3 separate regions of the Homo sapiens genome follow, and regions 2 and 3 are each linked to region 1. The links come from fine-mapping of genetic effects on gene expression. A gene starts in region 1. Each other region holds a variant in brackets. All regions are shown on one strand. Distances are between the middles of the regions.

What was found. PIP is the estimated chance that this variant, and not a neighbour inherited with it, causes the effect.
Region 2: its variant is the best candidate, but not a certain one, in a credible set for the expression of FJX1 in fibroblasts (GTEx, PIP 0.74).
Region 3: its variant is the best candidate, but not a certain one, in a credible set for the expression of FJX1 in fibroblasts (GTEx, PIP 0.60).

The regions. Positions count from the first base shown.
Region 1 is chr11:35,611,167-35,620,658 of GRCh38, reverse strand. FJX1 (four-jointed box kinase 1) reads right to left here and starts at 2,199. Exons shown (of 1, transcript NM_014344.4): 1 at 1-2,199. The coding sequence starts at 2,022. The coding sequence ends at 709. RefSeq lists enhancers at 610-1,244, 1,245-1,879 and silencers at 1,452-1,721, 1,732-1,991, 2,012-2,081, 2,179-2,340, 2,162-2,491 and 1 more.
Region 2 is chr11:35,584,052-35,594,186 of GRCh38, reverse strand. No RefSeq gene overlaps it. Among named protein-coding and RNA genes, the nearest start is that of FJX1, 29 kb to the left of the region's middle. The variant A/T (reference allele first, on the strand shown) is at 4,714.
Region 3 is chr11:35,539,631-35,549,765 of GRCh38, reverse strand. No RefSeq gene overlaps it. Among named protein-coding and RNA genes, the nearest start is that of PAMR1, 19 kb to the right of the region's middle. The variant C/G (reference allele first, on the strand shown) is at 6,189.

The sequences.
Region 1 (9,492 bases):
GCGAGAGGGAGGAAGAAATTCATTATTTGACTTAGTGCATACAGCTGACCCTGAATTTGTAGCCTTCAGGCCAAAATGACAAGAGGTCAGGAATGAGTCAGGCAAATTGTCAAGGTCTGCAGGGCTCCCCAGAGTCTGGAGGTCCTGCTCTCTTTGTCCTATCGCGAGCCGTCCCCCTGCTTGGAACAGTGATCTCACCATCGCGGCGCTGGAACAAAGGGAGAACACAGGAAGGGGGCTCCACCAGCCAATGTCACAGCCCTGCTCCGGGGCCACCAGCGCTCTGTTTGGTAGAAAATTGCAGAATTAGCTCAACGGCTCAAACGCAAGTTTTCCTTTTTCGGAAAGGGAATGAGGGGGGGCCCAAGAATGGGGTGCATCTCCCACAGGGACGGCCACTCGGGGGCCAAACCCCAGTAGCCAGTTTCTTCGGATCCAATCCCCGTGCTGGCACAGTAAAGAATCCTTTTATAAGCTGGGTGGAGAGAATGTTACACTTCTCGCCTCGGTGAGTTCGTCCTCCCAGAACTTTGAAAGGAAACAGCGTGGGATTGAAAGAAAGGGGCAGGTGGGTGAAAAGCTGAAGTTTTTAGACACCTTTGCGGGTGGGCGTTGGCCGGCTGGTCCCTGACAGTGGCAGAGGCGACCGCCCTTCCCCCCATCATCCATACCCCAGCCCCAGATCTCTCTCTTTTCCTCCCGGTGACACTAAGTCCCAGACCGGCGGCCGTACTTGGCCTTACAGTGCAAAATGTGCTTGGCGAGGAAGTCGAGGCGGCGCTGTAGCAGCTGAGCGTGGGGGTCTGCAAGGGCGGCCAGCTCGGGGAAGCGAGGCTCGTGGCGCCGGTAGAGGCGCAGCAGCCGGGCCGCGGCGTCCTGTCCGCGGTGCAGCTCCAGGACGCGCCGCGCGGTCCGCTCGCGGAACACGCACACTGACTGCAACAGCGGCTCGTTATACTTGTCCCACATGCCTGCTACCCGGTAGCCGTGCACCAAGCCCGCCTCATTGTCCAGAAAGACCAGCGCCCCGCCCGGACCGCGGTGCAGGTTGCTGGTGGCACGCTGCATGACGCGCGGGTCCCACTGCAGGCTGAAGAGGTTGCTTACGAGCCGGTCGAAGTTGGCCGTCAGGTAGTCGAAAAGGATTAAGTCGGTCCATTGTACTAGGTCCACCAGCTCCGCCTGGCTGAGGTTGGCCAGCTCACCCCCGGCATCCCGGAGGGGGCGCAGACGGCCGTCCTCCGAGCGCCAGGGCGCGGGCACCACCACGTCCGTGAGGTTGGGCAGCCAGCGTGTCAGGCTCACCACGCTGCCCTCGGTCCAGTGCGCAGCGCGCAGCTCCTCCTGCACCTGCGCCCACTGCGCGCCCCGAGCCTCCACCCGAGCCAGTGCCAGCGGCGGCACGTGGCGCTGGAGGCCCAGCAGGCGCGCCAGATAGTAAGACAGGGCCTCGCCCTGAATCTGCTCCGGGTTGATGCCGTAGCGCACGCAGGCGCGGGTGCCGTCGGCAAAACGGGCCAGTCGGTTGGAGCTGCGCCCGCAACCCCCGCGCTCCAGGGCCACCATCCGGGCGCCGCGAGCCGCCTCCAGCCACGCCGCCGCCTGGGCCTCCGAAAAGCCCGGGGGCACCTGCTCCTCCAGGCCGCGGCTCCAGAAGACGCCCCCGTGCACCGCGGCGCTCTCCTCCGGCCGGGGCTGCCTGGCTGACACGTGCCACCTGGGCTCGCTCCGGGACTGCCGGGGCGGGCCGTCCGCGCCGGCCGCCAGGGTGAGCAGCGCCCGGAAAGTTTTCAGGGAGCCGCCGCGGGCGTCCCACGCCAGGGGCGGGGGCAGAGGGAAGCGAGGCGCGGGCGCGGGGCCGCCGCTCCGGGCCGGGCGCCGTGGGAGTCGGTCTTCGGGCGGCCGGGAGGCGGGCAGCTCGGTCCGCGGCGGCAGGAGCCCTCCCCACAGCGCCAGCAGCGAGCCCAGCGCCAGCAGCCAGAGCCCCGCGGTGGCGGCGGCGCCCCGCATCCTCCTGCCCATGCTCCCGCGGCTGTGCCGGTGCGCCGCCGCCGCTTCAAGCCGAGCCCAGGCACCCGGGTCCCGGCGGCGAGGCGGGCCCGGCAGTTTGTGGGCTCCGGGGCTTCGGGCGCTTCGGCCCCATCGCGGCCGCGGGGCGCTGCGGGGCTCTGTCCGGCGCTCCGCCCGGCGCTGGGAACTCGAGTCCCCGCCGCTTCCCAGCTGCTTTTGTATTTCGCTGTGAGACCCTCCGGTGGGCGCGATTCACAGGCGCCCGGACCACGTGGGAGCCAGGGGGATCCCCCTCCCCCTCCTCCGCCTCCGCTCCCCGCCCCCCGCTCCCCCGCCCCCTTCCTCTCCTCTTCCACTTAAAGCGGCGATGGCTCCTTCCGAGAGGGAGAGGCGGCCCCACACTCGGTCCGGGACTTGGGGGCCTGGAGGAAGCCGGACTGGCTGCGCCCGCGCCGGGGCGTAGGAGGGGGTGGCGCAGAGCCGGAGTCTGGGGCCTGGCGGGAGGGACGCGCCCTGGGCCCTCGCGGGGGTGTCTTGGTCGCCGGGTCCCTTTGCCTAGGCAGCGCGGGTCTCCTGCAAACTTCAGACAGATTTCCACCTCTTTCCGAGCTCCGCCAGGCTAGGATCAGGCAGGGTCCCTTTGCTTTCTCAGTTTCTGTCTGGGTGATTCACGCTGCTTTATGTAAATCTCTGGGAATGTCTCCGAGCCACAGAGGATGTGATTCCAGCGGAAAGAGGAACCCGCTGTAGCCAACAACTTTGAACCGACACTCCCTTTTCCGAGCTCGCACATCAGCACCAATCAGTATTGGCCGCTCTGCCTTTCCCAACGGACTCCCAGGGAATGAAGCCTCGCTGTGCACGTGCCCCTTGAACACCTAGGCCATCTCCCATTCATTCATGCATCCATTCAACACAGCGACTGCCCCTCAGTTCTGGTTCTGCTTACCAGAAGCAAAATCCACAGATCCGGGTCCCAGTGCTGCTGAAATTTACATTCCAGTGGGACTCTCAGGTTGCTAAGAGAGATTATAGCCATCCAACCTCGTGTTGGGGAGAGGGGAGTCAGGGACGACTTTTCGAAAGAAATGATACCGTTTTGTCCATGAGGAAACTGAGGCACAGAGAAGGGATGGGTGTTGCTCAGGATTGCACAATTAGCAAGGGGCGAAGCTAAAAGTCAAACTCAGGTCTCCTGGCCGCATGCACTTGATTTTCCCTCCATTAAGAAAGATCAGTATTTTTTTTTTAATCAAGTCAGCATTCTCAAGTTTGAAATTCACTGTCATTTGACCACTTTGTTCCCCAAATGTGATTTTTCAATTAAAAGGATTTTTCAAATGGAAAGGAAAAAAACCTCAATCCCATACTGCATTTGATTTACTGCTTTTACGATTTAAGGGAAAAAGAAATGGTGGTGGTGGTGGGGGAGGGAGGTGGTGAAGGAGCAAAGAAAACAAAATGAACAACCTCTTCACCCCAACACATCTTCCAGCCACCTCTGGGTTACATTTACCAGGAAAACTTGGATGCCAGTCGGCCCTCCCTTACCTCTCTGTATCAGAATGAGTCCCAGATCCACACTGAGATTCCCAGGGTAGACACAAGATCAGGGGCATGGTGGAATCCACCTCTCAAAGGCCAGAGTTTGAAATCTGTTTCCTTACATGGTGTGTATCTTTTCTCTCCTTTCATCTTCCCATCAGGTGCACATGGGGGTTTTCAACTGGACTACCTCATCAGTTGGCACTGATTATGTTTTATTCTCCAAAGAAAAAACGTTCTAGGGTGATAGAGCGTTCCAGGGTGATAAAGCAGACACTCTTATGTTTATGGCTGAGCAGAGGCATCAAAAAACCACATTTGGAGTATTGCAGCACTGACCCAGGATACAGTCAAGTGTTTTCACTGGTGTGGTTAAGTACATACTGGATGAACTGTTGAATCTGTTCCCAACCACATGGTGGCTATACCATGCCATTTTATAACTCTTATCTGATAATGAGATTACTATGGCTCCCATATGGTTGCATCGAAATATATTAATCCATTCAAAGGTCTTATTTTTTTGGCCTATGTAAGCCCCTCCTCATCTTTCCCTAGCAGGCAGGGACTATGTCTTATTTTTTTATTTCTTATACCACCTAACATAGTATATTACACTAAATAAGCACTCAATAAATTTAATTTTTTTGTCTTTTGGTTTAACTTCTACTGGGATATATATGTATTTATTTGAAAGGCAGCCTCTTTCAGCGTGGGCAAACTATAAGCAAGATCGCCACCTAGTGGGCATAAGTAGAGTATCATCTAATTGGAGAAAAGTAGACATTTTTAACTGGATGATTAATTGTTGAAGTTAAATTCGGAAGACTATTAAATGTCTACTGTGTACCAAGCTATGTCCTAGGGGATATGGAGAAATCCAAAGTAGTTGGGGTCTCTGTCTTTTTGGCTGCTAACAAAAGCTGTAAGTAACTACCATTGTAAACTTCCTGGGGAGTCTGTCTTGTCCATTGTTTTATGGCTGCCTGGGCACAATGCCTGGCACTTAGTGTGTGTTCAACAACAATTTGCTGAATACATCGTTAGAATGCTAATGAGATGCAAGTAGCATGTATCAAGTTTTTTTAAATTAAATACCTTACTACTAAATAATGCAAAACAATTTTGTCCAACGGTTGTGAGTTATTGTTCAGCTGATTAAAGAATACAAAATAAGAACTTCCACTCATTTGAAAAAGAAAAAATATTGGTGAGGGTTTTGCATGATAGATGTGAGGGGAAGCACATGATTTTAATTCTGGGAGGGCTGGCTTCAAATCCAGAGACTAGAAATCCTGGAATCTCCTAACCATATTGCTGGTACTGATGAAAAAAACCCAGACTTAAATAAATTGACTAAGATCGTACACCTCATAAGATGGACTAATTTTATCATTGAGCAGCCCTTTGCCTATAGCCATAGGACTGAATGCATCATGTACCAGAACAGGATGCATTAATTTGTTAAACTTTAACAAATTAATTGAAATGCAGAAATACAGAAAACCAAAGGAACAAACACTGCCCCTTCCTCAAAGTGGAATGCAGTTTTGGAATGGTATTTGATTATTTGAGACAGGGTTTAAAAACATGCCTCTGTTTAGCTGTTAGATGAAAATACTCCCATTCTCCTTTATTTTCTGGACTGAGGACACTCCCCTGCCACCTGTGGCCAAACCACTTTGGCTCTGTGGGGTAGCATAGTTAATCACCTCAGTCACTTCTGCCCTCTGGCAGTTGCTTGGGGATGAGAAATCCATTTGCACTTTTATGACTTTCTTAATACTCCTTAGAATTTATCCCTGAGCCTGAACTTCCAATATCTTCAAACTTTTCCACAGTCCTGTTTGAAGAATGATCTGGTTCATGTAATGGTGCCTCCTGGGGGAAAGAGAGGAGGTGGAGTTGAGGGTTGGAAGCAGGGGAGGAGGCTTGGAATTGGAATATTTTCCAAGTCTGGCATTAGCACTTTCTGGCTTGTTCCTTGTTCTAGTTATTTACTTTCTGTGAGTTTCAGTTTCAGAACCTGAGAAATAAGTTAATAAATCCTTCCTAACTCACAGGGTTGTCATGCAGCTCAAGTGAAATATTAATAATAACCACAGCATCAGTGGCAGCAAACACTTATTGAACTCTTATTATGGGCTCGGTGTGGAGCTAAACCCTGCATGTGCTTTATCTCATGAAACCCCCCCAAAAGTATTATTATACCCACTTTACAGATGGGGAAGTGGAAGCTTAGCCAATCAGTGGAATGAGGTCATGCAGCAAGGAAGTGGCAGGGCTGCGATTCCAAAATGATGGGGACCAAACCTTTTGTAAATTATAAACTGCTAGGGAAATGTCAGGTGCAGAAATTATTACATTAAATCAAAATAGATTCAACTGAGATGAAATTTTGGTTTCATGTGTTCTCTGGGGTTTGTTCCCAAGTGAAATGGTTAAGAGTGTGAACTGTCAAGCCAGATTGTCTCATTAAAACCCAGTCCTGCCACTTACCAGGCATGTGACTTCGGGTAAGTTACTTAACCCCTTTGTGCCTCAGTGTATATATCTGTAAAATGCAATAAGAACAGTATTACTAGTATTACTAACAAAAATTATAACAATATACAATATCTCATGATTACTAGTAATAGGAACAAATCTTATAGATTATTGTGATGATTAAATTAGTGCTTATATTTAAAGTGCTTAAAAGAGCATCTAAGTGTTCACTATAGTATAGCTGTTGTTGTTCTTTTTCCTTTCTATTTCCTTTCTATTTCACTGTTTCAGTGCTCAGATGGGGATGTCTTCCTTCTCTTGTTGCTGTCCTCCACCAAGTCTCACTTGGTCTTGAGAGACCTAATACAAGTGGTGTTCCAGCTCAATGCACCTGCTTTATGCCTGAAATGGTGTCTTTCCTGATAATTTTGCAATATTTCTTCCCCATGGAGCTGGACCACCTGGCTTCTACCAAGGTTCCCAGTGTAACTCTTGTTAAATGCCCAGAGCCTCCAGCCAGCCTCGGGCAGACAGCTTCTGGCTTCCTCTCACTAGTCTGCCTCCTTCAATCCTGACCTTTTCTGGATCTCCTGAGTTATAAGCCCCTGGAAAAGACAGAGGCGTCCAAATGTACCCTTCCACGTGCTTCTACAAAAAGGAAGAGAGGGGACAAAAGATGTCAGAGATGAGTATAATATTCCATGGAAGTGGTATGACTCCTACATTGGCCACTACTCTTTGACCCTGGGGAGTTTTCTAACCCCCTGGGCTATAATTTTATTATGTATGTATCTCTGTTACGGACTGAATGTTTGTGTTCCTCCTTGCACCATAAATTAATATGTTGAGATCATAACTCCCAATATGGTGGCATTAGGAGGTAGGGCCTTTGGGAGGTGATCAAATCATGAGGGTAGAGCCCTCATAAATGAGATTAGTGTCCTTATAAAAGAGACCCCAGTAAGCTCTCCAGCTCTGTTTTCATCATGTGAGGACCCAGAAAGAATACCGCTGCCTATGAGCAAGGAAGAGTAGCCCCACTAGACACCCAGTCTTCTGGCACCTTGATCCTGGACCTCCCAACCTCTCTCTCTCTGTCTCTCTCTCTCTATATGTAGATAGATAGATAGATATCTCTATCTATCTATCTATCTATCTATCTATCTATCTATCTATCATCTATCTATCTATGTATCTATCTATATATTTTTTTTTGAGGCAGAGTCTTGCTCTATCACCCAGGCTGGAGTACAGTGGCACAATCTCGGCTCACTGCAACCTACACTGATTTTCTTGCCTCAGCCAATTTTCTTGCCTCAGCCTCTCGAGTAGCTGGGATTACAGGTGTGTGCCACCACAATTACGTCCGGCTAATTTTTTTTATTTTTAGTTTTATTTTTGGTAGAGATGGGGTTTCTCCATGTTGGCCAGGCAGGTCTCAAACTCCTGGCCTCAAATGATCCCCCCGCCTTGGCCTCTCAGAGTGCTGGGATTACAGGTGTGATCCCCTGCGCCCGCTCAAATGTTTGTTGTTTAAACTACCCCAGCCAATGGCGCTCTGTTATAGTAAGCCTGAACTAAGCCATTCCCTCCTTCCCGTCTTTTCTACCCTAGGGTACATTATGTTTCTGCTTGAGGATCAGTTTCCTTTTCTTGGTATCTCTATTTGACTATGATCTGGGTCTTCCAAAAATTGCTTAACTGATCTCATTCTCACATTCTTGGCTGTCAAGGGTGGGTATATTGATGCCTGGTTCCAGATAAATCCTACTGGAGAGCTAGAAGGAGGTCAGGAAATAGAGTAGTCTTTGAATGCAATGAACCTATCTGCTTGAACAAGTCCCACTTTTAAGAACACATTGTGTTTCTGGAAAGAAAGTCATGGTTGACAAGAACCTTGTAAATTGTGATGAGACACATTTTTACGATTCTCTTTATTCCACCTAGCTCTCTTTTGGACCTGCTTTGCAAAGGTTCCTGCAGACACTAGTGTTAAAGACTCGAATCTAAAGGTTGGAGCACCGGTGAATCAATTTAGTAAATTTTAGAGCAGTCGCCAACACATATTTCAGTCCTGGTTACAGAGTATGATGGTAAGAATTCTGGACTGGGCATTTGGAGACATGAATTTCTCTACTATAATTTAGTTCCACAGACATTTGTTGCCCACATGGTAAAGGCCAAAGGACTGAGGAATAAGTGATTGGGCATCAGATCTTCCTTCACACCTGCATCAGGGAACGTTTGTTGTCTTCTTTTCATCCTCCGCCTTCCCTTCCTCCTTTTTGGCAGGTCTCTACCTTCATCCTCTGTGCCTTTAACCTTTAAGGGATGCTGAATCCTGTTTGGGCTGAACCAGTCATGGTGCTTTCAATTCCTTGCAGTGACTGGTTAAGGCTTAGGCATGTGAGACCATTCTGGCTAGTGAATGTTACGGGGGAAGCCCAGTGGAAGGTTTCTGGAAAAGTTGTCTGTACTCTTACAGAGACACAAGAAAGATATGGCACCTTTTCTGCATGGTTCAGGCTGGATGGGAGGCCTGGAACTGAGGAAGTCATGTTAATGCAAGGGGAACTACGTTCACACAATCAGGAAGGCAGAGTAGAGAGATGGAAGGAACCTGGATCCTTGCTGATGTCACCAAGCCCCCAAGTTAATCAACTCTGGAAATGCCCTTCCTCTAGATTTCCTGTGGTTTAAGCTACTCTGAGTTGGGGTTTCTGTTGTTTGCAGCCCAAATTCTCCTGAATGACATACCCTTTCACATCAGAGCTTACAAACTAAGGAAGGAGGCTGACTTATAAACAAACAGATCTCTTCCATCACAACTGGGCTACTGGGAAAGTAGTGTGGTTTAATGTTTTGGAACATGTGCTCTGCAGCCAGGCTGAGTCTTGCACCTATGAGCTGTACCATCTTGGGAAAATCACTTAGCCTCTCCGGACCACTTAACTCATCTGTAGAATGGAGATGGTAACTGTACCTGCCTCATTATTGTATGGATAAAATGTACCTTAAGCACTTAGAAAGGACTCAATAAATATCAATTGCTGTAGATATTATGGAAATAGAAAGCACACGCAGGAGCATAGAATAGGGAGTGACTGATTCTGCCAGGGAAGTCCAGGAAGGCTTCACCGAGGAGGCAGGTGTTAAGATGAGTCTTGAAGGGGAAGTGGAGATTTACAGGTGGGGTGGGAGATTCAGCCAAGTAGAGGGAACAGTGTGTGAGCTCAACAGCTGTGTGCCCACAGGCAGATTACCACATCTTTCAGGAGCTCAATTTCTTTGTCCTTGAAAGCCCTTGAGTGTGTTGAATTAGCTTAATCCTCTTTTGGCAAAAGAAGTAAATCTCAGGCCCCCGCCCTAGATTGAGAGCCACCTCATTAGAGACCCTCCATGGCCCCTTCATCAATAACCTATGATTGTTGGTCTCAACCCACCCTGAAA
Region 2 (10,135 bases), 27 kb after region 1:
ACCATTATTTAAGGATCCATTGAAAAGTAGAGTATATGTTTCCTATTGCTGATGCCCTGACCTAATCCCTGGAACCTGTGAATATGTTATGTTATATGGCAAAGGGAAATGCAGGTTGGAGACGAAATTAAGGTTGTTAATCGGCTGACTTTAAAATAGAGAGAGCATCCTGGATTATCCAGATGGGATCAATGTAATCACAAGGGTCCTTAAATGTGGAAAAGGAAGGTAGAAAAGTCAGAGTGGCTGAGAAAGACTCAGCTGGCCATTGCTGGCTTTGAAGATGGAAGAGTGTCATAAGTCAAGGGATATATGGAGCCTCTGGCAGCTGGAAATCACAAGAGAAAGGATTTACCCCCAGAGCCTCCAGAAGGAAGCAAGGTGTCCTTGCTGACACCTTGATGTTAGCCCAGTGAACCCATTTCAGACTTCTGACCTCTAGAAATATAACATAATCAATTTGTTTCATTTTAAGCCGCCAAGTTTGTGGCAATCTGTTATGGCAGCAATAGGAAACATATACTCTACTTTTCAATGGATCCTTGAATAATGGTCAATGGTTAAAGTGCCTTTCTAGTGCCTATGGAAGGCATTGGCATACACGACAGCAGTAGAATTCGTAACTCTTGAGTGGGGATATTACCCCATGCCTCATATTCTGTAGAAAACAATATTAAAGCTACATTGCTTGTCTAGCCTTATACCAGAGGGACTTATCTGACTGGTGTGGCCTGGTGATTTGGGCAGGGTTCAGCTGAGATTGTTCATTTCCATTCTCTGTGGTGTTTGTTGGGTTCACTCACATATTTGTGGTCACTTGGCATGTTGATTGGTGTTGCCTGATCCTGGATGATGTAATTTACAGGCCTAGCAGTTGGCTGAAGTGTCAGCTGGGGCACTTTGGTTTTTATCCACATGGCCATTCCACTGGTTTAGCTAGCCTGGGCTTCTTCACTTGGTAGGTGAATTTTGAGAAAGAATGCAGAGGTTGCTTGACTTAGACCTTGGCTCAGAAATTGCTTAACATCATTCTGCTTCTTTCCATTGGCCAAGGCAAGTGATGGGAACAGTAGCAACCCCACATTGCCGGGGGCATATATACAGGGATGGGAGGCATTTGTAGCTATATATATATATATATATATATATATATATATATATATATATATAAAATATAAATATTTTTTATCTAAATATATAAATATAAATATTTATATATATATATTACATATATATATATATTTTTTTTTTTTTTTGCTGTTGGTGCTGTTGTTGTTTTGAGATGGAGTCTTGCTCTGTCACCCTGGCGGGAGTGCAGTGGTGCGATCTTGGCTCACTGCAACCTCTGTCCCCCCGGTTCAAGCGATTTTCCTGCCTCAGGCTCCTGAGTAGCTGGGATTACAGGCATGCATCACCATGCCCAGCTAATTTTTGTATTTTTAGTAGAAATGGGGTTTCACCATGTTGGTCAGGCTGGTCTCAAACTCCTGACCTCATGATCCACCTGCCTTGGCCTCCCAAAGTGCTGGGATTACAGGCGTGAGCCACCGTGCCTGGCCAGCAATGGTTTTTTAAGTGTTATACTCTCTGTGGCTCCCTTTCTTAGGTTAGATGGCCTGAAGCTGGTATAGGTTCTTCCTTCTGTTCCTGCCTCTTTCATGTGGTGAGTCTGCCAAGGCAAGCTCTGCCCTCAAGAGGAAAGGCTTCCAGTTGTTTAGCTGCTGTGGCCATGAAAAGGTGGCTAAGTATAACTCAGTATGGAATAGAAAACTCATTCAGATCACAGGGACAGTTTCCATTCACCAGACCAGGTAGCCAGTATTACCACTATTATTAGGACCTCTGATTCCTTTGTATACTTCTCAATTGCTTCAGAACGTGGAAGACAGAAAGGCACGATTAAGTAATACCTCAAGAACTTAGCAAAAACCACCTGAAGGATACAGAGAAATAACCAGTGACAAGAAGGGAAAAGTTCAGGAAGGACAAAACTGGGACGTTATTCTAAAAGTGAAGGTACACATTCTACCAATATAAATGATGAAATAGGATGCACAAGGAAAATGGTCTTTGCCATCCTTATGGACTAACTGTAATATGTCCAATAATTAGGATGTTTAAAATATGTTGACAAAATTCTGGAAAGCATTGGCTGGTTTTGCATTTACATTCTGGTGAAGTCATTTTCTCCCTGTAACTGATATTTGGACAGTTCTCCTGAGACAGCAATGGGGCATAATATAAACTGTCATATAATCATTTAGACATTTCAATTCTCTCTATGTCTTCTTTTTGTCGACAACCTAAAGGAATATATATTGCACATACACATAAACAGACGTGTTTTCACTATTGTTGTGGATGCAATTGATAATGGAAACAAGAAATGAAGGGTCTCTGAAGAAGAGTGAGATTTTTTCAGTTCAGTCCAGTTAGTGAAGTCCAGTTCAGTTCTGAACTTAATCCAGAAGTTGTTATTTTTCCGCAAAAATGACAGTGAAAAATCAGAGGGTTACATGGGAGCTCTCATTTTGCAGCTGCAGAAGCAACAGCAGCAGCATGGAGAGAAGGCATTGGTGTGTGGCCACACGCAGCTTTGGGGTAAGAGCAGGCAATAAGGAAGCAGTGCATTATAATGGAAGGAGCATGGGCTTTGGTTAAAGATAGACCCATGTTTTTGACTCCTGCCTTTGCAAATTACTCACTTTCTAACCTTTCCTGTTTTCATTTCTTCTGTAAAATGGGGCTGATTGCCCTCATCTCATGACTATTGTAAGGATTAAATAAGATATATTTCAAATGTCTACTACTGTGCCTTGCACATTGTAGGCACACAAGAGTGATGACCATACAGAAATGAAATTTGCAGAATTCGTGGGGGGAATTGTGATTCAAGTCCTTGCATGGGTCTGAGCAGTAGCTAGTAAGAACAGAAGTAGCTAGGGTGGTAGAGATAGATAGATAGATAGATAGATAGATAGATAGATAGATAGATAGATAGATTGTAGAAAGCTCCATGTTTTTAGGGATGCATTTTTAGCAAGTACATTATAAGAGATAGTATTAGAACTAACTTTTCACTTTCAGATAATTCTCAAGAAATAATAGGTCTGGTTGGAAAAGCCATGGACTAGTGTGACAGGTCTAAGGGGATAAAAGAGTAATATAAGATGACAACAGAATAGGCAGAACCGGACCACACTTGGACACAGAGAGCTCTCCAAGCTGATTTTGAGCTGTGTCATACCTATGGCAGAGGCAGTATTGGTTCCCATGGGCTACCCTCCAATCTTTCCTCTTGTCGACTTGGCAAGCCTGGGACCTCTTCTGAAAACCTCAGCTCTAACAACTCCTAAAGTGTCTCAGTGTAACAGGTAAGGAAACTGACAAAAGCAGGGACAAGGGCACACTCTCCCTGTTGAGCCCCTCAGTTGGTTTAGCAACCAGGGAGAGGCCACTCCCTGGCTTAGCTCTTTCATCCATAAGCTAGGATCCCTGGTGCCTCTCCCAGTTCTTTCTGCAACCTGCTATAGCATCAGGAGGAGGGAGGGACTCAAGCCATCTTTCTGCAACTCAATGCTCATATTTCTGGCTTGTTATCACAGTGATGTATCCTTAGGGACAGTGAGTCACATCCTAGAAGTAGCTGGCATCCTTGGAGCCATCCCTGACTTTCTCTCTCCCAGCAGGGTGGGAGAAGAGCACCTCTCCTTCCAAGGCATGGAGGCAAGAAAGTCTTCCCCTTCTCAATCCTCTGTTATGGCTAAGCTTTACACACTAGAGTTCAGGTGTGCAAAACCAGAAAGGAGCTTCTTTTGTTTTAGTAATGGATTGTCTTCTGCTCTGAAGCCCCCATAGAAGTAGGGGGAAAAACACAAATAAAAATAGACATGCCAATAAAAGAGAACCCAGTCTCTTCCAGTTCAAAATAGTTCCCTTTGGGCAAATATTCTGAAGTGGTTCCTACCAAGTCTGTTTCTCTCTTTTCAAGAAGTTGCTTTCTACTCTTTTTCAAGATGGCACCTGAAGTGGAGGGAAGCAGAGCCTTAAATATCCTCACAGCAGAGAGGAGGAGTTCTGCACCTGTGTGTGGTCCTCTGGGCTGCTGTTCTCTGGGCCCCAGCTTCTGGCCTTAATAGCCTTCCTTGCCTCAATGTGAAGCCTGGTGGACCTGGTGAATGTTCTCTCAGCCCATGGAATACAACTTCAGCCATCTTCTGCTGCTGACTCCAGCCACCTGAGATTTTGCTGGTGATACTGGTCCTTTGAGACATGGTCACAAGCTCCTTGAGACCCCCAGACCTGGCCAGACCTCCCTGTGGCTTCTGCTACAGGGTTTCCCCATCTTGTGTCTCAGTGAGCACTTGCAGGCAGGCTTCTCAATTCTTAATTCTTCTTTACTTTCGCCATCCCTTTTATTGGTCCCTGAGAACTTTCCAGATCTTCTTTGTGCTCTGCTGAAGCCAAGAGAGAGCTAGGGTGGGCTAGAATGAGGCTATCTCAGGCCCTGGCTATACAGGCACCCACTTCTGCCCATGCTGCCCATTAGTACCCAAACCTGATGTACACGGCACCCTTTGGAAATGCAGACTTTTCCCACAGGCTGTGGCTCTCCCAGGCTGTACCTGGGGAAGCAGAGCACCAGCCATGGTCTTGCTAGGTTTCTCCAAAGTTTCCTTAAGTTCCTAGCGCATGCGCACACCCAGCCCAGCC[A/T]GGGGTTTTGATTTGGTTGTGGGAGGGAATTCAGGACACTGTCACACTTGCCCATCCTCTCTTCAGCCCTCTTCTCAGCTCCTCCCTCCACGGAAAGCACCTTCTATCTTCCCCTTCTCTCCAGCAAGAACTGTCCTCATATCCTCCTTCTTCCTTGTTCTTTACCCTTTGCCTTCCCTTTCCCAGGTCCAAAATGACAAAAGGATTATAGGAGCAGAAACAAGATTTCCAACCAAGGAAAAATATGGAAAAGAAAGGGACAGGCACCTCAAGCTGTGTGTCCCAAGCCTTGGTGAAGGCCAACAGAACAGGGAGTGGCTCACCTCCCATTGAGATGTTATGAAACTAGGAGGACCCTCAGGAATACTATAGTCTAGGAGGAGGTTCAGAGAAGTTAAGTGGCTTGCTCAGGATTGGTGACTTGCCCAACTAATTACCCCTACTAATTAGTTGAATGGGGTCCAGTGTTCATTCCATTTCACCACACTCCCTCCATATTGTCAGTTAATATCAATGCTAAAACATCACAAATAAATATAAGGAGGGAATTGAGACAATAATAACCAGAGGCACGCTGTTGTGGACGAGGAGGAATGTATTAGTCAGAGTTCTCCAGCTCTTCAGAAAAACAAAACCAACAGGATGGATGTGTGCTATATATGTAAATATATGGAGACAGAGAGAGGGGGAGAGATTTTAAGGAATTGGCTCACATGATTGTGGAAACTTGGTGAGTCCAAAATTAGATGGGAGACGTGAGGAGGCCGGCAGGTTGCAGACTCAGAGAAGAGATGCAGTTTGAGTTGAAAGACAGTCTGCTAGCAGAATTCCTTTCTGCTTGGGGAGAAGAGGCCAGTCTTTGTTCTATTAAGGCCTTCCATTGTTTGGATAAGGCCCACCCACATTATGGAGGGTAATCTGCTTTACTCAAAATCTATCTCATCCAAAAAACATCTTTGCAGAAACATCCAGAATAATGTACCAAATATCTGGGCACTGTGGCCCAGATAAGTAGACACGTAAAATTAGCCATCACAAGGGAGTTGTGGGTCTCATTGTGAACTGGAAAGATGTTGCCGAAAAGGATCCACTATCTTATCTCAGTGGGTGGAGTTTCCAGAGAGTTAGAGATTACATCTGGATTTTTGTTGTTGCTGTTGTTGTTTTTGAGACAGGGTCTTGCTCTGTCACCCATGCTAAAGTGCAATGGTGCAATCATGGCTCACTGCAGCCTTGACCTCCTGTGCTCAGGTGATCCTCCCACCTCAGTCTCCTGAGTAGCTGGGACTACAGTCGTGCACCACCACGCCTGACTAATTTCTGTATTTTTCACAGAGACAGGGGTTTCACCATGATAACTAGGCTGGTCTCAAATTCCTGGGCTCAAGTGATCTGTCTGCTTTGGCCTCCCAAAGTGCTGGCATTACAGGTGTGAGCCAGCATGCCCAGCCTAGATTTTGGGTTTAAGTGGGTGACCTGGTCCCCGGACACCACATCAAGAAAGGAGGGAAGATAAACAATGTTGAGGAAGGGAACAGGGAAGAGATGTTTCCCCATCTGCTTTGCTTAGGTCATGTTTGTAAGTAACAAAAACCGGTTCAACATGGAGAAACCTTAAATACATATTACTAAGTGACAGAAGCCCACCTGTAAAGACTGCATACTGTGTGATTCATGTTCTGGGAAAGGGGAAACTATGAAGACAGTAAAAAGATTAGTGGCTGCCAGGGGTTGAGGGGGAGGGAGGAGTGAAAAGACAGAGTACAGAGGATTTTTAGGGCAGTGAAACGAGTAGAGCTGATACTATGCATTGTACCTATGTCCAAACCCATAGAACATATACCACCAAATGTAAATTGTAATGTAAACTATGAACTCTGGTGATAAGGATGAGTTCATGTAGGCTTATCAATGGTAACAAATGGAAAACTCCAGTGGGGGATGTTGATAGTGGGGGAGGCTGTGCATTTGTGGAGGCAGAAGGAATTTCTATATCTTCCTGTCAATTTTGCTTTGAACCTTAAACTGCTCTAAAAAATTTAAGCCTTAATGAAAGAACAAACAAATCAGTTAAAGCTCACTTTTTCTTGCAGGGGAGTTTATTATAAAGACACAGGAATGTTTTTTTGGAAGCCAACAACAGGAACAAAATGGGGCTTGGAGAAGCACCAAGATCAGGGATCAGGGCACACACAAGCCATACTCAATCTGGGTCTCTTGCCTCTGATCTCTTCTTCCATTCTTCTTTTTTCCTGGAGCCTTGATTTCTCTGCTTCTCAATTTGCATGGTGGCTGGAACATGTCCATTGTACAGGTCTGGTTATCCGAAGTCATATTCTCTTTTTCTTGATTCCATTTCCAGTTCCTGGGAGAACTTTGTTCAATCTAACTTGAGTGAATTGGCAACATCTGGGCCAATCAATCATGGCAGAAGATTGAGGCAATATTTTACAAAATAACTGCCAAAGGCTCACTGCTGTGATGAGGAGGGAGTTAAGAGTTTCTACTTGAACTGGGTGGGCATTGCCAAAAATGATCCACTCCTTTATCTCAGTGGGTGGGGATTCCATGGCATTAAAGTTCATATCCATGAGAACTGGCATGGGGCCGCCTACCTCTCTGACCCTCTACCCATCCTCCCTTTGGTGGATGCCAGCCTCTGTGACATTTCTCAGTAGCTGCAAGTAGCAAAGAGAACCTGTGGGAAATGCTAGCCTTGCCTCCTGCCTTCCGTTGAGGGCAGATTGGGACTTGTAGCTGCTATCAGCTGCAAGGAACTGAGGGTCATGCCATTGCATTGCCTGAAACTGGAGATCATTCACAATTCAGTTCATGGTCCAAGAAACAAAAATAATATTTAATGAGCAAAATCTTCTTTGTCTAATTATGGTAAATGTCAAGGTTGAATCCAAGTGCTTTGCTTAAGGTCAAATGCTCAGTGCTATCGAAAAGCATTTAAACCAAAGCTGATGGGCTATTAAAGCCCAGGCTAGTTAAAATAAGGCACAGTTCTTTAGTGATTTATTTCCTCCTATTGGAAGCAGTAATGTTGAAGTTGGAACAGTCCACAGCAGCTTGTGCTTTGCTCTTCTCCGCTGCTCTCTATAGACAGGCGAGGGATTCTCTGATGAAATCAATGCTCCAAGTCTCCTAAAGAGTTACTTTCAAGGACCAGGAATTTCATTTCCATTTGGTCAGTTATTTTAAGGTATTGGCCTCTTTCTGATTTAATTGGTCTGAGGTGAGACCTGGGCATTGGTATTTTTTTGGAGGCTCCCAAGTGAAGTGTTTCTAATATGTACTGGGATTGAGAACAACTGAGCTAAATGCTTGATTTAGTTAATTAAAATAAAATGCTGAAAGCTGATGCCTTTGGGTCCTGAACTCTTCTCCATATTGCTCTGCCCTTACTCATAGTTTTCATTCAAACCAAATATATATTCTTCTCTCCTGCCTCTTATTTTTGGAACCCAGAGCTGTCTCCCAGGAGGTGGCTTGCATTGTTAAGCTCCAGAAAGGGCAAAGTAACAGTTCCATACTCCCTTTGCATTTGGTAGTGAATAGGATGGAAACTATCCCCCAAATATCTGTTAGCCCCATGTCAAATGGATTGGTGAAGACCAGTTTTGAAGGTTCAAGAGAGAGATGAGAATTCACACTACGGGACAGGCCACTTCAGAAAGTCTGAAAAGAATGGGACAGCAAAGCTTTCCTGAGCAATGAAGAAATCTTTCTCCCATTATTTATGCACACTGCTTCACTGTTCCTTCTTTCTTTCTTGTCATACAATAGAAATAATGATCTTGGTACCAGACCCTGTGTTGTGCGAGGACAATTAATCACCCACCTAGTCATTTATTTCCTCATACTCTTCCCCACCAGGACCATTATCCTGTAGGTAAACAGAGGTGCCAGTAAATCACGGACAGAACACAGGTCAGTGGGAGAATGGTTGATTAAGCGTCTCTATAACTTAAAGTTATGTAGTACCTCTCATCCCAAAGGATCTCCAAGCACCAGATAGACTGATGTACGCACTGCTGCAGAACCCCTCTATTTGTCACTTTCTACACCTTTGCGTTAGGGGGCTGGAATGTTTATTGCCCTTTTCAGGCAGTTACCCTAGAAACTGCAGTCATGGGTAAGACAAGAGGAAAAGGAAGGAACTTTTCACTTTCCTGTCCTTTCAAGCAACAGAAATCAACTAGCAATCAGAGAGTAACCTACCCATCCTCTTGGGCAAAATTTCTTTGGTTCATGAAATGCTGCAAATATTACACAATTCCATGTTTCTTCTTTTTCTAAAGAGGGCAGCAACTGAGTAGGCATTGAGGTTGAGTGGTGAGTGTGGACAAGATCTAAAACAAGTATTTCCAGGGTAAAAATATTTAGGGTCTACTAGAATCATAGTCTAGGGGGAAATCACTGTTTGAAAATCTTCATGTTAACTCTGCCCCTTAATCTTTAGTAATAAATGGAGCCTTTTGAAAGAAAAAAGCAATTTCCACTTTTCCTCCCAGTGTTTACTTAAATTGTTTAATTATAATGCTACTTTCAAATTTATCCTTATGGCTCTGATATATATATAAAACCAAAAACAAGTTAAATTATATAATTCAATACAAGTTAAATTCAAACAAAACTACAAAGCCAATTTAACAACCTTAATTTAATGGGAAGGATGATGTTGTTTTGCTGAAACCAAATTACCTTTCAAATGAAAACATGATATTGACTGCTGCCTCATTAATTCTTTTAAATTTGGCATGTCTATGCTACTGGGTGCCATGTGATGACCCATTTTTCCACAATTTCTCTTTATTTGAACTACTATGGAAACTGCCTTTGTAAAGTATACGTATACTATCAACTTATTTGGCCTTAATTTGTGTTAACCCAACATGTCTTTGCAAAGCTTACATCTGTGCCACTGGAATAAACAAGGCCACTGGATTCCTGTGGTATGATTTGATCATGAGTCATTAGAATTATGCAGAAGATAGTAAAACTCAATTTTAAGACTATGATCAAAACGAAGACCTCCAATTAAAAAGATCCTCGTAAAAAATTTTAAGACTCCCCTTAGGGGGGCCTGTGGGAGCCATGGACCTCACATTAAAACATACATACCCAAAGACATTAGGTTTAGGTCAGTAGTAGGTTTGAAGTTGGAATCAAAGCAAAATTCTGGGCAAAAAAAAGAAGCCAAATAAAATTAAATGATTACATGACAATACAATTCATTACTCAATAGAATAATAGACTTGAGTATGGAATCTTGTTATAGGCATGTCCGAGACTGCTATATGTCCAACTGTGTCTGTTCTCTCCTTTTCTCTTTTAGTAAGAAAATTCTCCCCTACTCCATAGGTGCTTTCAGGCATCATGGCTAATCAGCTAGAGGCCACATTTCCCAGTCTCC
Region 3 (10,135 bases), 71 kb after region 1:
ACAGCAATATTTCCTACATGAGGAAATTTACATCTCAAGGGAAGCTGACTCTGTTTCCCCATCTCCTCTCTTATTCTTTCATGGCTTTTCTAGCCCTTTGGAGATTGAGTTTACAATCTCCTTGGTAAGTCACAAAGTCAAATCAGGACCTCTGATTTTAGAATGTGGTTCTAAAGCATTGGGATTTTTTTCCCCCAGTGAAAGAGATGTATATTTGGATGGGCTATTCTTGATCTACTCATTATAGATATTTCTTCCTTCCAATGCTGGAGACATTTTAACCTCAAACAACTGGGTGCTGGAAATATATTATAGCAATGTTTCCTACATGAGGGAGTTTATATCTCAAGGGAAGCTGACTAAGAAACAAGCATTTGTAATCCAGTATAATAAGAGCTAAAATAGGCACTCACACACTCAAGGGGAATCAGAGAAGACTTCCTGAAGGAAGTGATGTCTAACTTGATCCCTGAGGGATGAGTAAAAAGTGGAGTGGGAAGAGGGTTTCAGGAGGAAGGGACAGTCTGTGCAGAGGCCCAGAGCAGTCAAAAACGGCTTGTTTGAGGAACAGAAAGGCAAGAAGATAAAAGACCCTGCAGAGTTTTTAAGCCTCATTAATGCATTTGGGCTTTATACTGGGGACAATAGGAGGCCTGGAAGGCTTTTGAACAGAGGATTAAGCTGCCCTGCAGTCGAGAAGGAAAGATCATTGTAGCTCAGTGGAGAAGGGAATGGGGTGGGGGCAGAGACAGCAGGCAAGGAGGCCAGTTAGAAGGCTGTTGTCATGGTCCAGATGTGAGATTATTTAAGGAAACTTAAAAACCAGTCTAGCTCGAAAACGTCAAAAGCAATTGCAACAAAAGCAAAAACTGACAAATGGGACCTAATTAAAGTAAAGAGATTCTGCACAGCAAAAGCAACTATCATCAGTGCGCACAGACAACCTACAGAATGGGAGAATATTTTTGCAATCTATCCATCTGACAAAGGTCTAATATCCAGAATCTATAAGGAACTTAAATACATTTACAAGAAAAAAGAAAACCAAACAATCCCATTAAAAAGTGGGCAAAGGATATGAACAGACAAGTCTCAAAAAAAGACATCTATGCGGCCAACAAACATAAAAAAAAGCTCAACATCACTGATCATTAGAGATTAGAGAAATGCAAATAAAAACTGCAATAAGATACCATCTCATGCCAGTCAGAATGGCAATTATCAAAAAGCCAAGAAACAAGAGATGCTGGCGAGGCTGTGGAGATATAGGAACACTTTTACACTGTGGTGGGAATACAAATTAGTTCAACCATTGTGGAAGATACTGTGGCAATTCCTCAAAGACCTAGAACCAGAAATGCCATTTGACTCAGCAATCCCATTAATGGGTATATAACCAAAGGAATATAAATCATTCTATTGTAAAGACACATGCATGCGTATGTTCACTGCAGCACTATTCACAATAGCAGAGACATGGAATCAACCCAAATGCCCATGAGTGATAGACTGGATAAAGAAAATGTGGTACATATTCACCATGGAATACTATGCAGCCATAAAAAGGAACGAGGTCATGTTCTTTGCAGGAACATGGATGGAGCTGGAAGCCATCATCCTCAGCAAACTTATACAGAAACAGAAAACCAAACACCACATGTTCCCACTTATAAGTGGGAGCTGAAGCATGAGAACACATGCACACAGGGAGGGGAACAACACACACTGGGGCCTGTCGAGGGGAGCAGCGGGAGGGAGAGCATCAGGATAAGTAGCTAATGCTGTGGTGCTTAATACTTAGATGATGGGTTGATAGGTGCAGCAAACCACCATGGCACATGTTTATCTGTGTAACAAACCTGCACAGCCTGCATATGTGTCCTGGCACTTGAAATAAAATTAAATTAAAATTTAAAAAAACCTGAAAAATCCCATTACTGTACAACATGGCCTCGTTCCATTAGCATGGACAGTCAAGCCTGGACTGCAATTCCAAGGAAAAACAACAACAACAACAACAACAACAGCAACACCCCAAAAATCAATCTAGCTGTGCCCATTGGGAAAGACACCTCTCGCCTTTCACCCTGGAGTAGCTGGGTTGAGGTCATCTACGTCTGAAATCTCTCAGACCACTGTGGTAGGTGAGAACCCAGCTCTCTTGGCCCCCAGACCACTGCTCGGCTCCAGAGCTTCCCCCTCCCTTGCCCTTTCCAGAATCAGTCCTTTCCCCCAACAGGTTAATCTTTGCTTCCAGCACCCCAGTAGCCTCTGGACTGACCACTGCATATTTCATCTGGTGCCCTTTCATTTTCCTTCTGCCCCCTTTCTGATCTTCCCTTGACTTCCCACGACAGATGTGGAGATAAATTTGTTGGTTTCTTGGCTGGGAGCTGGGTCTTCTTTCTAGTTCTGGCCTGACATTTTCCTTAGCTCAGCAGGGCAGAGACAGCAGCTTCACTCAGGCCTCAGATGGGGCAGAGGAAGAGTGAAGAAGGTCTGGTTGTTGGATAGTCTTATTGTAGACATGAGGAAAGAAAGAGGAACTAATTCTGATCCCCTCCGTCAGTACAGTGCCCTGTCTCAGTGGTTCTCAATCCCTGCTGCACATAGAATCAACTTCGGGGTCTTTAAAAAAAAATGTCAGCTTCCCACTCCGCAAAATTCTGACTTAATTGTCATGGGAAGATTCCAGGCCTCTGTAGTTTAAAAAGCAGCCCAGGTGGTTCTAATGTGTAGCCAGGATGGAGAACCATAGCTCTATTAACATGATTCAGAGATACGCTGACACTAGGTGGGGGCATCCAGGCAGGAGTCTCAGCTCTGGCAGTTTTTTTTTTTTTTGCTGGGTTTGAGCTTCATAGCTTCTTTGAGCTTCAACTATTTCTCCCTCTGTAAAATGCAGAAGTTACTTACTACTTCTTAAGATGGTTAGTTACTGCCTCTTAAGATGGTTAATAGGCCAATCAAGTTATGCATTTGCATTGCTTGGTACATAATGCCCAACTATGAGCACTGATTGGTTATTTTTCTTATTATTTTGCCTTCACGTTAGGCATTGTTCTGTCCTTCTAGTTCTGTTTTTACCCCCAGCTACTTTAGTGTGAATTAAATGATCAGATTTCTATCATATGTCTGTGGGAGGACATGCACTAAATGATGGGAAAAGGCGCAGGATTAAAACTCTTACAAAATGATTAAATAGAATAAGTTTGTCTCCAGGGACTCCACTCTCATTTCCTCTTTCTGTGCCCTAAGGTTTACAGACAGGATCTGGGGCCAAGAGAAGCACTTCAGTACCGAGTGAGCAGCCCCAGGGAGGATGGAGAGAATTCCTCTGCTCTGGAAATTTTGTCTTTAATTTAAGTACTTTCAATGCCATTATGAAATAGGACTTTCCATAGCTCCCTTGCTGAAGCATGTTCCATTGATCCCTAGATAGTTACATTTCTCCTGGTGACCTGTGTGGTCTTTTCCTATGAGTACTCTCAGAGTCACCTCCCGTTTCTCCTGTAGCTTCCTTTGGGTGTGACCAGGAGGGCTAGGATGTCTAGCATGGTGGGCCGATGAATGAGTCCTTCCAGTCACGATTAGCTCTGCAAAGAACTCTGCCCCTTACTCCTGATAGCACAAGTGTGTCTTGCTGGACACAGCAGAAATGTCAATGGAGGATGGAAAGGTCAGTGCAAATGCATCACCATGCTAGGAAAAATATTAATATTAATATTAATAGCTCAACACATATCCTTCATAATGAAAAGAACAATGCATCTCTCTCAAAAGATTTGATACTAAAGAGACAGGCTGTGGTGCTCTGGGGCAGCGGAAATTGACTTCCAGAGAGAGGCTCAGAGGGCCAAGTGATGGCTGTTGAGAGAAGCCCAGACTTTCACAGCAATGGATTTCCAGCTCAGAGGATATTACATTGCCTTCCCATAAAGATCTGCTCTCCATTAAGACAGAAAACAAACAATGGTTTCAAATACAAGCCTTGAAAGGATTAAGCTAAAGAATCTAACAGCAATTCAATTTCTGAGAGTTGATGCTGTCTTAAAAAGAGGCCGTACAATAATCCTAAAGAATTTTTAAACGTTGTAACAGTATCTAGAAGTCCTTTGCATTGAATCACTTAATAATTCAGCAAACATTACATGCCTAATGAGCATCTGTTTCTCCTGTTTCACCACTAATATATCACAAGGACGGGTTTTCCAAATTGCAGGCATCGATTTTTGATTGAACTGCTCCTCACGCAGGCAACTGACTCTGCGTAGCGTGATCCAGGGCAAGTAGCTGCATGGATTTAATTGTGTGTCCTGGTGAATTGAATGACCGACTCACTATATAAAGAAGTTTTATTGCTAAATTAAAAATGATCATAGCTTGGTATTAATTATTAGCAATTATAAAAATTATTGTGACTTCAACATAAGCTTTTATTGTTTCCGTTACATTTTATTTAACAATGGTTAATTCTTTCTCCTGAGCCAACCTCACAATACAGTGAGTGAGATAAAATATATCAAGTGTTTAGCATGGCGTCAGACATTTAGGAAGCAGACAAGAAACGATGGTCTTCATTTTATCACAGGAAAACTATACTTTTCCCAAAAGATAAAAGCATTTTGGAAAACTGTGGGTTTTCCAAAAGAGAAATAAAAATGGTTCCAGCCTGGGCTGGGCGCGGTGTCTCACTCTTGCAATTGCAGCACTTTGGGAGGCGGAGGCTGGCAGATCACAAGGTCAGGAGTTCGAGAACAGCCTGGCCAACATGGTGAAACCGTGTCTCTACTAAAAACACAAAAAATTAGCTGGACGTGGTGGTGCATGCCTGTAGTCCCAGCTACTCAGGAGGTTGAGGCAGAAGAATCGCTTGAACCCAGGAGGCGGAGGTTGCAGTGAGCCGAGGTTGTGCCACTGTACTCCAGCCTGGGCGACAGAGTAAGACTCTGTCTCAAAAAAAAAAAAAAAAAAAAAAAAATGGTGCCAGCCTGTTGGCTAGTCTGATTATCTAGAAATGACAGTGTTCATGAAGTTCAGGGTTGGATATTCGTTGACATTGTTGTTTTTGCCCTTTCTTGAATTAATATGGTAGCTCCCCCTTATCCATGTGTATTAATCTGTTTTCACACTCACGCTGTGGATAAAGACATACCCGAGACTGGGTAATTTATAAAGAAAAAGAGGTTTAATGAACTCATGGTTCCACGTGGCTGGGGAGGCCTCACAATCATGGTAGAAGGCGAAAGGCACGTCTTACATGGAGGTGGCAAGAGAGAATGAAAACCACGCATAAGGGGAAACCCCTTATAAAATCATCAGATCTCATGAGACTTACTCGCTACCATGAGAACAGTATGGGGGAAACCACCTCCATGATTCAATTTTCTCCCACCAGGACCCTCCCAGAACACGTGGGAATTATGGGAGCTACAATTCAAGATGAGATTTGGGTGGGGACACAGTCAAACCATATCACCATGGCTTCTCTTTCTGCAGTTTCAGTTACCTGGTATAGTACAATAAGATATTTTGAGAGAGTGACAGAAAGAGAGAGAGATAGAGATACTACACCCACATAACTTTTATTACATTATATTATTATAATTATTCTACTTTATTATTATTGTTATTAATTTCTTACTGTGCCTAATTTATAAATTAAGCTTTATCATAGATTTGAATGTATAGGAAAAAACAGTATATATAGTGTGTGTGTACATATATATCTATGTATATATGTGTGTGTGTGTGTATATATATATATATATACACACGTATAGATATATAGGCTTCAATACTTGCAGTTTCAGGCATCCACTGGAGGTCTTGGAACATATTCCCCAAGGATAAGGGGGGAATACTGTGGTAATATTAGCAGCAACTACTGTGGTAAGCCAGGTCTCCCTAAAGGCTGAACAGGCAGGCCTCCATAACAACTATTTCAGCACTGAGTGGTTAAGTTAAATATTAAAAGCCAAAAGACCTAGTGCCCCTATACAAAGGCTGGAATGTAACAAAAGCCCACCAGGAGTTTTGCCTAGGCTTTTCCTGGGCTTTGAAGCATGACAAGATAACGAAGGAACTCTTAACAGGAGCCGTTTAGGATTAAACATGTCTTACTGGGGGTCTGAAGAAACTCCCCAGGCCTCCACAAAGAAGCTTATTAGGGGTCTAAAGGAACTCCC[C/G]AAACCTCCATGATTTCGCAGGGGACAAGATAAGGGTAATTACCCCAGCACCTGGACGTATTTGGATTAAGTAAATTTACTAAGGCTCCAGAGGAAGGTGTTCAGGATTCAGATCTTAGTTATAGATTAGAAGAATTTAATCACTTACGTCTTTCGATGAATGCACACTTACATGTAGACGTATAGCTTAGAAGGTATATAAGCTCTGGAAAACTTTGTAATTTTGAGTTGGTCTGGCGATATTTTCCAGGCCTTCTCCCTGTACCCAGTTATAGACATAAACTCCCTTCTCTCAGTTCATCTGCATTTTTGTTATTGGGCTGTGAAAATAAGCAGCCTGACCCTTGGTTTGGTCTAGGAGCACTACTGCAACTATTATATTATAATAAATATTAATATTAGTAGGAATAGTGGTAGGCGCGTTCATAATTATGGCTGGTATCAGTTGTTTCTGATTCCCCAGTATTTTGGCCTCTGCTTTCAGTAACAACTAGGCTTTCCTTTATATAATTATCCCTCCCCATTGGAACTGGTCTTGGTTGGGATGTCAGAGTGTACACCTTCCTTTGGCCAGTGGCTCAAAGATGGCAACCTGGTGGAGCTGATGGGTCCTGACAGTGGCACCCTAAAGAGTCCATCATTAGTTCCTGTGGCTGACATATCTGGGGCTCTTCTGCTTCCTGGTTCTTTCCAAACCTTGGCCATTCAATTTAGCTGTTGATTCTTTCAGTTGTCTCAGAGTCATCTAATGTATTTTCTTTTCTTTTAAGTTACACAGAGATGATTTGCTTTGCTTAGTAATCAAAGGGCCCAAAATAATACTTGAGAGGTCACATTGGTCATAGTAGCTGTGGTGGTTGTTGTCATCCTTTTTGAAGTCACAGTAGTAATAACTACCACATACTTACTATCTATTATGTTCTGGGCATAGTCTAAGCATTATCTCATATCATCCATCTAACAATCCTGTGAAGTAGCAGATACATACCATTACCACCCCCTTTTGCAGATGAGAAAACTGTGGCTTAGAGAGATCAAGTAATTTGCCTGTAGCTGGTAAGTGATGGAGCCAGGATACAAATGCAGAATGTCCAGCTGTGATCCTTATACCCTTGATCACACCATAGCTTCTCTGTTAAATGACTCGTTGGGACGTGCCTGGCGATGTGCTCATCACTTTATATCAATTACCTAGTTTAATTTTCACAAAAATAATTAAGTCTCAGTATGGGTTCTGATGGCAGCCATACAGATGAGGAAACATGGGCTCAGATAGGTTAAATACTTTGTGACTGTTGCTCAATCCTAACATTCCAACCAAAGCCACCAAGCTGAGAAAGGTCTGAGCCTGTTGGGAGAAGAATGAAGACAAGGGCCTGGTCTGCCCAGATTTAACCTCACTCTGTGAATGGAACAGAGAACCTTAAAAACATGTCAAGAATTAGGCTTCCTTTGGAGGATTCTCAGGAGGTTTCGGCAGAGAGGAAAAACTTCCTTGTACTGAGATAACTTTGAAATCCTCATAATGAGGCCAATTTTTTTCTCTTCCTTTCTTCTTTGAGAATTCCAGGCCTGATTAGATCATGCTCTGTACTGGAGTCGGCCAAGGGCCATGGTTTAAATCACGTGCTCCTGATGACCTTACAAGAACATCTAAGAAGGATAAATCTATTTGTTTTACACTGAGATAATGGAAAATAAAGCTACCCCTGCTCCTCTCCAGGAGATCTTGCTTGCCAAGTTGGTTTTCATAACACACTTTTACAGTTGATTTATCTTCTCTGAAAAGTGAGACAAAAACTAAAAAATAAAGCAGCACTTAGCAGTGCTTTTGCCAAAAACAATGAAAGCCAAGAGCATCATCGTAGACTCTGTTACCAGAATTGGCAGGTTGATGTGTTTCCAGACATGGGAACAAAGACCCCAAATTCCAATGAGTCTGGAGAAATTTTCAATGGCCATCTTTGTAGTGTTTTGTCAGGAAATGAATGATTGGAAGGCACTTGTGTGGCTGCTGCTTGGCTTTTACCATCAACACCACATCCCACTGCCATTTATGGCCCCCACCTCCAAACTCCCAGGCCGAGTGGGGTTGAAAATTTGGAATTTGTACCCAGGAGGTAGAATGGGGCCACTTTAATAATTATCTGGTCGGGATGATTTTCTAGAGGATGCTGATGAGGGTGGTGTTGGGGAGGAACCAAGGGGATGGCAAAAGAGCAAGTGATTTCTGCTTTGCATTTAGTAGCAGTTACTTCTAGACCCAAACAACTTATTTGCAACTTTCAGAAGCATGGAAGGATGGGATTGTCATTGACTTAGTGTTTCTGTGCCTCGCATTCCTTTCTGTAAAATTGGGGCAATCCAGTGCCTAACTCAGGCTAGATGGGAGAATTACATGAGATAATGCATGCACTGTGCCTAGCACAGGGTAAGTGACCAATAAATATTAGGCTTTTGTTATTATTACACTCCCGGCTGCCTTGCAGCTTGGGTCATTCTGGGTCCCCATCCATGCCCACTCTTCTGCCCTCAGGGACTTGTGGCCTTCTTAGATTATATCTAAAATCTTTCCTGGGCTAACATTCTATTACCCAAGCCTATTCCTCTCTGTTTATAGGTGAAGAGAGAAACTGATGCCCAGAGAGGTGAAGTGACTTGTTCAAAGTCACAGTTAGCAAGTTTAATTCTGTTGCTGCTCTTACGTATTAGTTACCTATTGCTGCATAACAAATTACCCTAAGATATGGCATCTTAAAACAACTAACATGTATTATCTCACGTGGTTTCTGAGGGTCAGGGATCTGGGGGCAGCTTGGGTTTATGGTTCTCTCATCAGGTTGCGGTCAAGATGCCAGCTGGGGCTGTGGTTTCTGAAGACTTGACTGGGGCTGGATTTCATCATTTCCAAGATGACTCTGAAGGATAGCAGAAAATGCCACCCCAAAATATGCCATTTTGGCTTAAGAATTATTTTGAGCTGAAGGCAAAGGAGGAAAAGCAGATAGATACAAGAAGAGTTATCTGCCCTCCCTCTACTTGCCAGAAACACGATGTAAGTTTGTAAAGGTGCCCTCTCTCTTCTCCCTACCAGGAAGGACAGAAGTTAGTCACTAGAGACAACAGTAGACCCTTATAAGCCCAGAGAGGGCACCAGAGAAATCTTCATTAAAAACCTTACCAATGAGTCCTTCTCTTCCATTAGCCCCCACATGTATTTGCCTTTCCATAATTTGCCACCCCTAGAAGCTCAAAGTCCTTTTCCTTTGTCTTATCACTTCTCTAAAACTGTATGGTTCTTTTGTTAAGATGCAATATAAGCCCAAGTTCTAGCCACCCCTTTGTGTTACTCACTGGGTGTTCCCATGTGTATGTGTCATGCACATGTTAATGCAATTCTGCTTGTTTTTCTCTTGTTTATCTGACTTTTATCAGTCTAATTTGCAGAGCCCAGCCAACCAATGAATCTAAGATGGGTAGAGGGAAAACAGCTTTTTCTCTCCAGCAGCTTACTCAGATGGTTGTTGTCAGGAAGCTTTCATTCCTTGCCTGGGAGCCTGTCCTCAGGGCTGCTCAGGACATGACTTCCCGCAAGGCACGTGATCCAGGAGGGAGTGCAGATGGAGGCAGCAGTGTCTTTCATAAACTAATCTCGGGAGGGATGTGCGGTCACTACTCCCATCTGTGATGGGTCACACATACCAACCCTGGTACACTGTGGGAGGGGATCATGCAAGGTTCGTGACAACCAGGAGGCCAAAATTATGAGACACCGTCTTGCAGGCTGGCGACCACCCCCCTTTAAGTTAAAGACAAAGTCCTTAACAGAGAACTGCTTAACTTATCAGCCTCCACTCATAAAATACTCCTTTTGATCTCTGGGCTTTGGTTTACACTGGCCTTTTTTCAGTTGCCACACACACCACGTTCCTGCCCAGCCTGCCTTT